3 separate regions of the Homo sapiens genome follow, and regions 1 and 2 are each linked to region 3. The links come from fine-mapping of genetic effects on gene expression. A gene starts in region 3. Each other region holds a variant in brackets. All regions are shown on one strand. Distances are between the middles of the regions. Region 1 overlaps MTG1 (mitochondrial ribosome associated GTPase 1). Region 2 overlaps PAOX (polyamine oxidase). Region 3 holds the start of FUOM (fucose mutarotase).

Region 1 (2,670 bases), 38 kb before region 3:
CGCCACTGCACTCCAGCCTGGGCGACAGAGCAAGACTCTGCCTCAAAAAAAAAAAAAGAAAATAAGACACAAGACAAAGAGATAAAAGAAAAGACAGCTGTGCCTGGGGGACCACTACCACCAAGATGCAGAGACCGGTAGTGGCCCCAAATGTCTGGCTGCACTAATATTTATTGGATACAAAGCAAAAGGGGCAGGGTAAGGAGTGTGAGCCATCTCCAATGACAGGTAAGGTCACGTGGGTCATGTGTCCACTGGACAAGGGGCCCTTCCCTGCCTGGCAGCCAAGGCAGAGAGAGAGGGAGAAAGAGAGACAGCTTACGCCATTATTTCTGCTTATCAGAGACTTTCGGTACTTTCACTAATTTTGCTACTGCTATCTAAAAGACAGAGCCAGGTGTACAAGATGGAACATCAAGGCGGACTAGGAGCGTGACCACTGAAGCACAGCATCACAGGGAGACAGTTAAGCCTCCGGATAACTGCGGGCAGGCCTGACTGATGTCAGGTCCTCCACAAGAGGTGGAGGAGTAGAGTCTTCTCTAAACTCCCCTGGGGAAAGGGAGACTCCCTTTCCCGGTCTGCTAAGTAGCGGGTGCTTTTCCTTGACACTGACGCTACCGCTAGACCACAGTCGGCTTGGCAACGGGCGTCTTCCCAGACACTGGCGTTACCGCTAGACCAAGGAGTCCTCTGGTGGCCCTGTCTGGGCATAACAGAAGGCTCACACACTTGTCACGTCTCACTATGTCCCCTCAGCTCCTATCTCTGTATGGCCTGGTTTTTCCTAGGTTATGATTATAGAGCAAGAATTATAATAATATTGGAATGAAGAGTAATTGCTACAAACTAATGATTAGTAATATTCATATACAATCATATCTATGACCTATATCTAGTATAACTATTCTTATTTCATATGTTTTATTACACTGGAAAAGCTCGTGTCCTCGGTCTCTTGCCTCGGCACCTGGGTGGCTTGCTGCCCACAATGCGCACTCACTGACCACTCGGGCTCTGGCAGCACAACCTGGCCACTTCCCACAGGAGACGTGCACTCCCTGGGTGTCCAGGTCACGAACCACACATTAGATGGGGGCACGCCATATGAGAAACGATGCTGGCACGCTTCTGCAAAGCAAAGGGCTGTTTCTAAAGCAGAGCCTGCCTGGGCAAACTGACAAGTGTGCGTCC[G/A]GCAACTCTTCCGTTAGAACAAGCGACCTCGGGAAAACACAGCCACACTGCTGAAGGCGTCTGAGAGAAAGGCCTTTACCTGCTGCTCTGTAAGATCCGCCAAGTCCATCTTGTTGAGGACCAGCAAGTGAGGCTTAAGCCCAAGGGTTTCCTGAAACAGAGGGTTGCGGCCTGAAAGTGGGATGTGGCAAAATTAAGGTAAAAATTCCTCCAAAGCTTTACCAGCCAACCAACTTTTTTTCTTGCCATCAGTGAACGAATCATCACATCCTGCCAATTCATTCCTCAAGTACAGGAGAAAAGCCCCAGTTGGCAGGAACATTTAAACAGTTTCATAGCCCATCTAGAGGATTCCACTGCTGCACCGTACCGTCAGGCTTGAGTGACGCAGATATATGTATTAACAATGAAGTTTCAAAGACACGCAGTCTGGACCCCACATCACAGATTCTGATTAACTGGTCTAGAAAGGGGCCTCGCAATTCATATTTTTAAAAGCCTCCCCAGGTAATTCTAATGTGTAATATGACTTCAGGCAGAGGGGCCTCCCCTGCTCTGTGAAAGGATATCCGGGCATCGTGGACCTCGATGATACAGTCCACCAGCTTCAGGCTGCTCTGCATCTTCTTCAGCCCTGGAAAACAGAAGGACGCCTCAGCGAAGGGGCTCACAACCTTTCTAGAGTGATCGATTCAAGCTGAACCGTCCAGAATGACACGCCACCATAAATAACCTAAAAAGACTATATCTGAGGGAAGCGTACTAAGTAATGGTAACAGATAACATCCGCTGAGCGCCTCCTCCAAGGTCCGCACCCTCGGAGTGGGAGACTGGGAGGCACCCTGCCACAGGGTGGGCCATGTGTCAAAAGCCAGATGCGGTCTTCACCACCTGACTCATGGCTGACTCTGGGTGGAATATTTAACGTGCATGGGTCGCTTTTTTGTTTTCTGAGACGGAGTCTTGCTCTGTCACCCAGGCTGGAGTGCAGTGGCACGATCTCGGCTCACTGCAACCTCCGCCTGCCAGGTTCAAGCAATTCTCCTGCCTCAGCCTCCCGAGTAGCTGGGACTACAGGGACGCGCCACCATGCCGGGCTAATTTTTTGTATTTTTAGTAGAGACACGGTTTCACCATGCTGGCCAGGATAGTCTCGATGTCCTGACCTCGTGATCTGCCCACCTCGGCCTCCCAAAGTACTGGGATTACAAGCGTGAGCCACCGGGCCGGGCCCTTCCACGGGTCTTAATCTGGGCTATAACACAGAGTAACACTGGCTCATTAGGCCCCTGCTACCTCGCGGGGATGATGACGATAGTCCCCTAACCAGGAATACCACACACAACCAAGATAACAAAGCTTCCAGCTTTCTTCCCCTCCAGTGTTATCCGAAGACCGAGGACACAGCCTCAGTCACCCACACGGGCCCTTCTTCCCCCTCGGCCCCCAGTACACGCGGAGCCGACGCAGGAGTGG
Region 2 (2,795 bases), 31 kb before region 3:
TCTGACACCCAGGCTGGAGTCCAGTGGTGCAGTCATAGCTTACTCCAGCCTCAACTTCCTGGGCCCAAGCCTGAGCAGCTGGGACTACAGGTGCATGCTACCATGCCTGGCTACTTGTGTGTGTGTGTGTGTGTGTGTGTGTGTGTGTGTGGAGACCGACTCTCACTATGTTGCCCAGGCTGGTCTCGAACTCTTGGCCTCAGCAAACCTCCTGCCTAGGCCTCCCAAAGCACTAGGATTACAGGTGTGAGCCACTGCCCTCAGCATCATAGTTAAGTATTTTACAAGGATGTCTTTATCTTTTAGAAACAGGCACCAAAATATCCTGAGGTGAGACAATGTCCTGTGTGAGTCATGCTTAATAAAAAAGGGCGGGGGTGGGCGGGGAGAAGCTTGGCTTAGGGGAAGCCTGGTGGGCACTGAAAGGTTCTCCCTACTTTAGTATGTTTGACATTTTGCACAGGAAATGTATCTCAAAACGTGGTAGCAGAAACATGTTTTTAGAGATGCAGTAAACTTAGCGATGAGAATCAGCTGGGAGCACCGTCTGAGAAGGGCAAAAGGGGCTCCACCTGCCATTTTGGTTTTATTTTCTTTTGTTAGCACTGCAGAATTCTCTGACTTTTTAAGCTGTGTGTGTATAATTCTCACAAAAACAGTACATTTAAAAATTATTCTTAGTTTCAAAAAGAAAATGGCTTCCGAGTCTGGGATCCCAGCCCACCCGCCACTGGCTGGTGCTCCTGCAGCGCCCAGACTCGGCGGGGGCCTCTGCAGCGGGACCCACGCCCCCCGACTGGGGCACGCCACATACCTGGGCGCCGGCGCCGTCTGCAGGGAGGGGCTGAGCCAGCAGGTCCAGGTCGCCCCCAGTACTGCCCACGGCCACGTAGCTGTAGGACCCCCTAGTGTACGGGGCGCTGTGCCAGCGAGACCGCAGGACGCTCTTGGGCGCGGGGAGCCGTGGGTTTCCTGAGCCACAGAGACACTGCATGTTAACCGAGAACTCTCACCCACAGGTCTGCAACTGTTTTTGTCATTTTTAAAGATTGAGCAGTTTAACGTGAAAGATGCTATGCAGGAAGAAAAGTGAGCAGCAGAGTGTGTCAGGAGAGGCTCTTCCTGCCGCCTCTGACCCGAGAGCAGTGGGCTGGGACCCGGGGGCCTCTGACCCGACAGCAGCGGGCCGGGACCCGGGAGCTGTGACAGCAGCAGCTACTGTTTCCGAGCCTTGGGTTCCTCCTCTGTAAAAATCTGATCAAGGACAACGGCATTTATTTTGGTGGCAGAAGTAGGAAGTGTTTGCAAAGTCATTTCAGTTCCTCGGAGGTAAGAACTGTTACTGACCCCACTAACATGAGGAAGGATGGTCCCTGGAGATGTACAGAGTCAGCCAAATTTAGTTTTTCTCTGTTCTGCAAAGTCTAGTTTCTGTTTAGAGATCAACCAGTAACGAGCAGAGGCAGGAACC[A/G]GCGTGTGTGGTGAGTACCTACCTGTCACTCTCCGGAGCACTTGGGTGAGACACAGAAGTACTTCTTCATCCGACAGAGTCTCCATGAACTCAGACTCAAGTCCGGCAATGAACCCACAGAGAACGTGGACAGACCTGCATGGAGAAAGAGAGCCCTGGGATGACCAGACCTGCATGGAGAAAGAGAGCCCTGGGATGACCAGACCTGCATGGAGAAAGAGAGCCCTGGGATGACCAGACCTGCATGGAGAAAGAGAGCCCCGGGATGACAGTGTCCAGCCCAGCTCTCCGCCCGCGTTTCTCAGCAAGGAACCACTGATGGAGCAGGGGCCCCAGAGGCACAAAGAGCCACCCCACAGAGCGTCCCTCAGGCAGCAGTTCGCAGAGTGTGGGCGGCAAAGTCCTGGGGGTCCGAAGGCCCTGCCAGGGACCCTCAAGGTCACAGCCATCTTCAGACGCTAAGACAGCATTTGCTGTTTCCACCACGCCGACATTTGCACCTGAGCAAGAGCCAGGGCAGGTAAACCGTCCCTTAGCAGAATCAGGCAGCAACAGGATCCACATGCGCCTACAGGCGTTCCCACCACTGCACATGAGGGTTACAAAATGCTGCTTTTTGCAGCCGTCAAAGAACGAGATCATGTCCTTTGCAGGGACATGGATGGAGCTGGAGGCCATTATCCTTAGCAAACTAACACAGGAACAGAAAAGCAGACAGCACATGTTTTCCCTTTCAAGTGGGAGCTAAATGATGAGAACACACACTGGGGCCTATGGGAGAGTGGAGGATGGGAGGAGGGAGAGGAGCAGGAAAAATAACTAATGGGTACTAGGTTTAATTCCTGGGTGATAGAACTAATCTGTACAACAAGCCCCCATGATACACGGTTAGCTACATAACAAACCTGCACGTATATCCCTGCCTCTGAATATAAAAATTAAAATATATATATTAAAAAATAAATAAAAATGCTGCTTTCACTTGAGAATGTCCTTGATCAAAGGCAGTAAAAGTTACTAATTTTATTAAATCTTGATCCTCGAGTTCATGTCTTTTTAATAATCTGCGTGGAGGGCCAGGCACAGTGGCTCAGGCCTGTAATCCCAGCACTTTGGGAGGCCAAGGCGGGCGGATCACGAGGTCAGGAGTTCGAGACCAGCCTGGTCAATATGGTAAAGCCCTGTCTAATAAAAATACAAAAATTAGCCAGGCGTGGTGGCGGGCACCTGTAGTCCCAGCTACTCGGCAGGTTGAGGCAGGAGAATGGCATGAACCCGGGAGGTGGAGGTTGCGGTGAGCCAAGATCGCGCCACTGCTCTCCAG
Region 3 (2,795 bases):
TGGAGTGATCTCGGCTCACTGCACCCTCCGCTTCCCGGGTTCAAGCAATTCTCGTGCCTCAGCCTCCCAAGTAGCTGGGATTACAGGCACCAGTCACCATGCCTGGCTAATTTTTGTATATTTTGAAGAGACGGGGTTTCACCATGTTGGCCAGGCTGGTCTCCAACCCCTGACCTCAAGTGATCCGCCCGCCTCGGCCTCCCAAAGTGCTGGGATCACAGGTGTGAGCCACCGCGCCCGGCCTGATTTGGTTTTGAAGCTGAAAACTTTCTTGCCCATCTCTATAAAATCCTCTTGCCCTTGTATATTTGGGTAAACGGTGACTCTCCACTTACAAGTTGGAGTAGAAACTGCCCAGGTACAGCTCTGAAACCCGGTGGCCTCGGTGCAAAGCCACCCCTCATTGGCAGGCCCTGGGCAGCCCCGGTCTTCTCTCTGCCCGAGTGGCCGGCCCAGGGCCAGCTGTTCAGGTGCTGCTGGGTGCCAGCCTGGGTGGCCCCACCAGGCTTTTCCGACGCAGCCCAGGCCACTTCCCATGGGGACAGGCTCCTAGGGCCAAGCAGTTCAACATGGAGACGTCTGTTTCCTCCTGGTTTTCTGACGCGGCTTTGTCATTTTTCACATACAGATTGATTTTCAGAACTTTTTAGGAGCCGCCAGGCCTCAGAGCATTTGTGTCACCTCAGGGCTGAGGGCCAGGGCCGCAGTGCTAGCCCCACAGCTGGTGTCCAGCTGGGAATCATGTGGAAGAAGGTGGTTCCGCGGAGGGAGGGCCTGGCCAGCCTGAGCTCAGCCAAAGGTCAGGATGCCGCCATCCTGGGCAGGGGGTTGCAGGCCGCTGACACCGGGGGATGATGGAGGACCCTTAGGTGTCCTGGCACTTCGCAGCTGAGCCTGGAAGCTGGGCCTGGCTGCCCTCCTGGACTCCCCCCAAGGGGGTCCGAAGTCCTGGCTCCCGTGTCCCTTGCTCCCGGTCCCTCAGGAGCGTGGGCTGAAGGCCTGGGTCCAGCTACCCACCATGGTGACCCCAGGGACCCGGTGCGCTCCGGGCATTCTGCCAGGCCTAAGGGCAGCACGAAGTGGTCAGAGGGCAGAGACCCTCATGAGGGGAGGCCGCGGCGGTTGAACCCCTTCGGCCTGAGGGAGCTCGGGGTGGGAGGCTCGGGTAGGGACACTGGGGAGCCCCCGGCCACAGCGCAAGGGCACCCGAGTCTCGGACCTGGCGAGGAGCCCGTGGGCTGGCTGGGTGTTGCCCCCACGCCACGACTCAGCCCGCACGTCCCCAGTTCCTGGGGCTCCCCGCCCTTCCTTGAGCCGCAAGCGGACCCCAGCCCGCCGAACCCTAGGCCCGGCCCGTCCCCAAGCCCCAAGCCCGGGACCCTAAAGCCCCGCCCTCCAATAAAGCCCCGCCCTCCCCGTAAAGCCCCGCCTCTGCCCCTAAGCCCCGCCCTCCCCGTAAGGCCCCCGCCTCTGCCCCCAAGCCCCGCCCTCCCCGTAAGGCCCCGCCCCGGCCCCCAAGCCCCGCCCCTAGGCCCCGCCCGCCCCGTCTGCCGGGCCATGGTGGCGCTGAAGGGTGTCCCCGCACTGCTGTCCCCCGAGCTGCTCTACGCGCTGGCGCGGATGGGGCACGGGGACGAGATCGGTGAGCGCAGCGGGCCGGGGCCTCGGGGAGCACCCCGGGACAGGCAGGAGGGCGAGGCTTGCACGGGGACCCCCGGGCCGGGAAGGGCCGCGTCCTGGGGTGTGGGCGTTGCTCGGGCCTCCCTGGCTTCCGGGCAGGAAGCCCCCTCCCCCGCATTCTTTAGGGAACTGAGACCTCGTGGGGCTCTGGGCGGAGCCGGCCCGAGCTTCTCCCGGAGTCCCTCCCCAGACGGCCCGAGAGCCCTCGCGTCTGGGCTGCCCCCGAGGGTTCGGCGCTTTTTCTTCTCCTGGGGCCTGGGGTCCCGGGGCAGGGGTTGGGTGGCCGGGGGCCTGGTCCGGGCATCGCGGGCAGCCGCGCGTCCTCTGGCCCCTGGGGAGGCGGCCGGGTCCGGGTCGGCCCCCTGGCCTGGTCAGCACCCGACAGCCTCGCGGGCAGCTGTTGACGCCTCTCTGCCTCCCAGGCAGGGACCTTGCCCTCCCCACCTCCCCGCGTGGCTTCCAGCCCTGCGGATCTGACTGCGGCCGGTCGGCGGTGGGGGCGCCCAACTGGCTGACCTGAGACCTCTTGTGACCCACGATCTGCCGCCATGACTGGGTGGGAGGACGGGCGGCGCCGACCCCGAGGGCAGGGATAGGTGCCGACACGGGCTGTCCTCCCGGCTGTTTAGTTCTTGCGGACTTGAACTTCCCGGCCTCCTCCATCTGCCAGTGTGGGCCCATGGAGATCCGTGCAGACGGTGAGCGAGCCCCAGGTCCCCCAGGGCAGGGCGGGCGGGTGAGCGGTGCTCCTGGCTCTGAGGCTCCTCTGTGGCCTGCCGTGGCCCCAAGTCCATGCTTGCAGTGTGAAGGGTGCAGACAGGCAGGCGGGCGGGCGGGCTGGAGACTGAGTGCTGCCTCCTCTGCCCTCCAGGCCTGGGCATCCCGCAGCTCCTGGAGGCCGTGCTGAAGCTGCTGCCCCTGGACACCTATGTGGAGAGTCCGGTGAGGGCTGAGTCGCCCCTGCACCCTGCTGCTCCGTGCCTCAGTTTCCCCTTTTGCGGGCTTCATAGGGCCCACCTGCCTTGGAGTGGGGGGAAGCCATGTGTCCCCAAAGGGGCCCTGACCCTCACCAGGGGAGTCCCGAATGGTCACCTGACCAGGAAGGCTGGCAGTGC

The links.
Region 1: its variant is fine-mapped to the expression of FUOM in whole blood (TOPMed, PIP 0.99).
Region 2: its variant is fine-mapped to the expression of FUOM in whole blood (TOPMed, PIP 0.91).

The regions. Positions count from the first base shown.
Region 1 is chr10:133,394,871-133,397,540 of GRCh38, reverse strand. MTG1 (mitochondrial ribosome associated GTPase 1) reads right to left here. Exons shown (of 11, transcript NM_138384.4): 2 at 1,764-1,828; 3 at 1,274-1,378. Among named protein-coding and RNA genes, the nearest start is that of MTG1, 2.0 kb to the right of the region's middle. RefSeq lists an enhancer at 1,704-2,658. The variant G/A (reference allele first, on the strand shown) is at 1,195.
Region 2 is chr10:133,387,767-133,390,561 of GRCh38, reverse strand. It overlaps PAOX (polyamine oxidase), which reads right to left. Exons shown (of 7, transcript NM_152911.4): 5 at 1,494-1,606; 6 at 815-972. Among named protein-coding and RNA genes, the nearest start is that of MTG1, 5.0 kb to the left of the region's middle. RefSeq lists silencers at 674-753, 1,343-1,637, 1,894-2,051 and an enhancer at 1,804-1,933. The variant A/G (reference allele first, on the strand shown) is at 1,472.
Region 3 is chr10:133,356,770-133,359,564 of GRCh38, reverse strand. It overlaps FUOM (fucose mutarotase), which reads left to right and starts at 1,546. Exons shown (of 6, transcript NM_001098483.3): 1 at 1,546-1,642; 2 at 2,310-2,378; 3 at 2,552-2,622. The coding sequence starts at 1,558. RefSeq lists silencers at 123-285, 1,318-1,397, 1,448-2,067 and enhancers at 2,218-2,317, 2,795.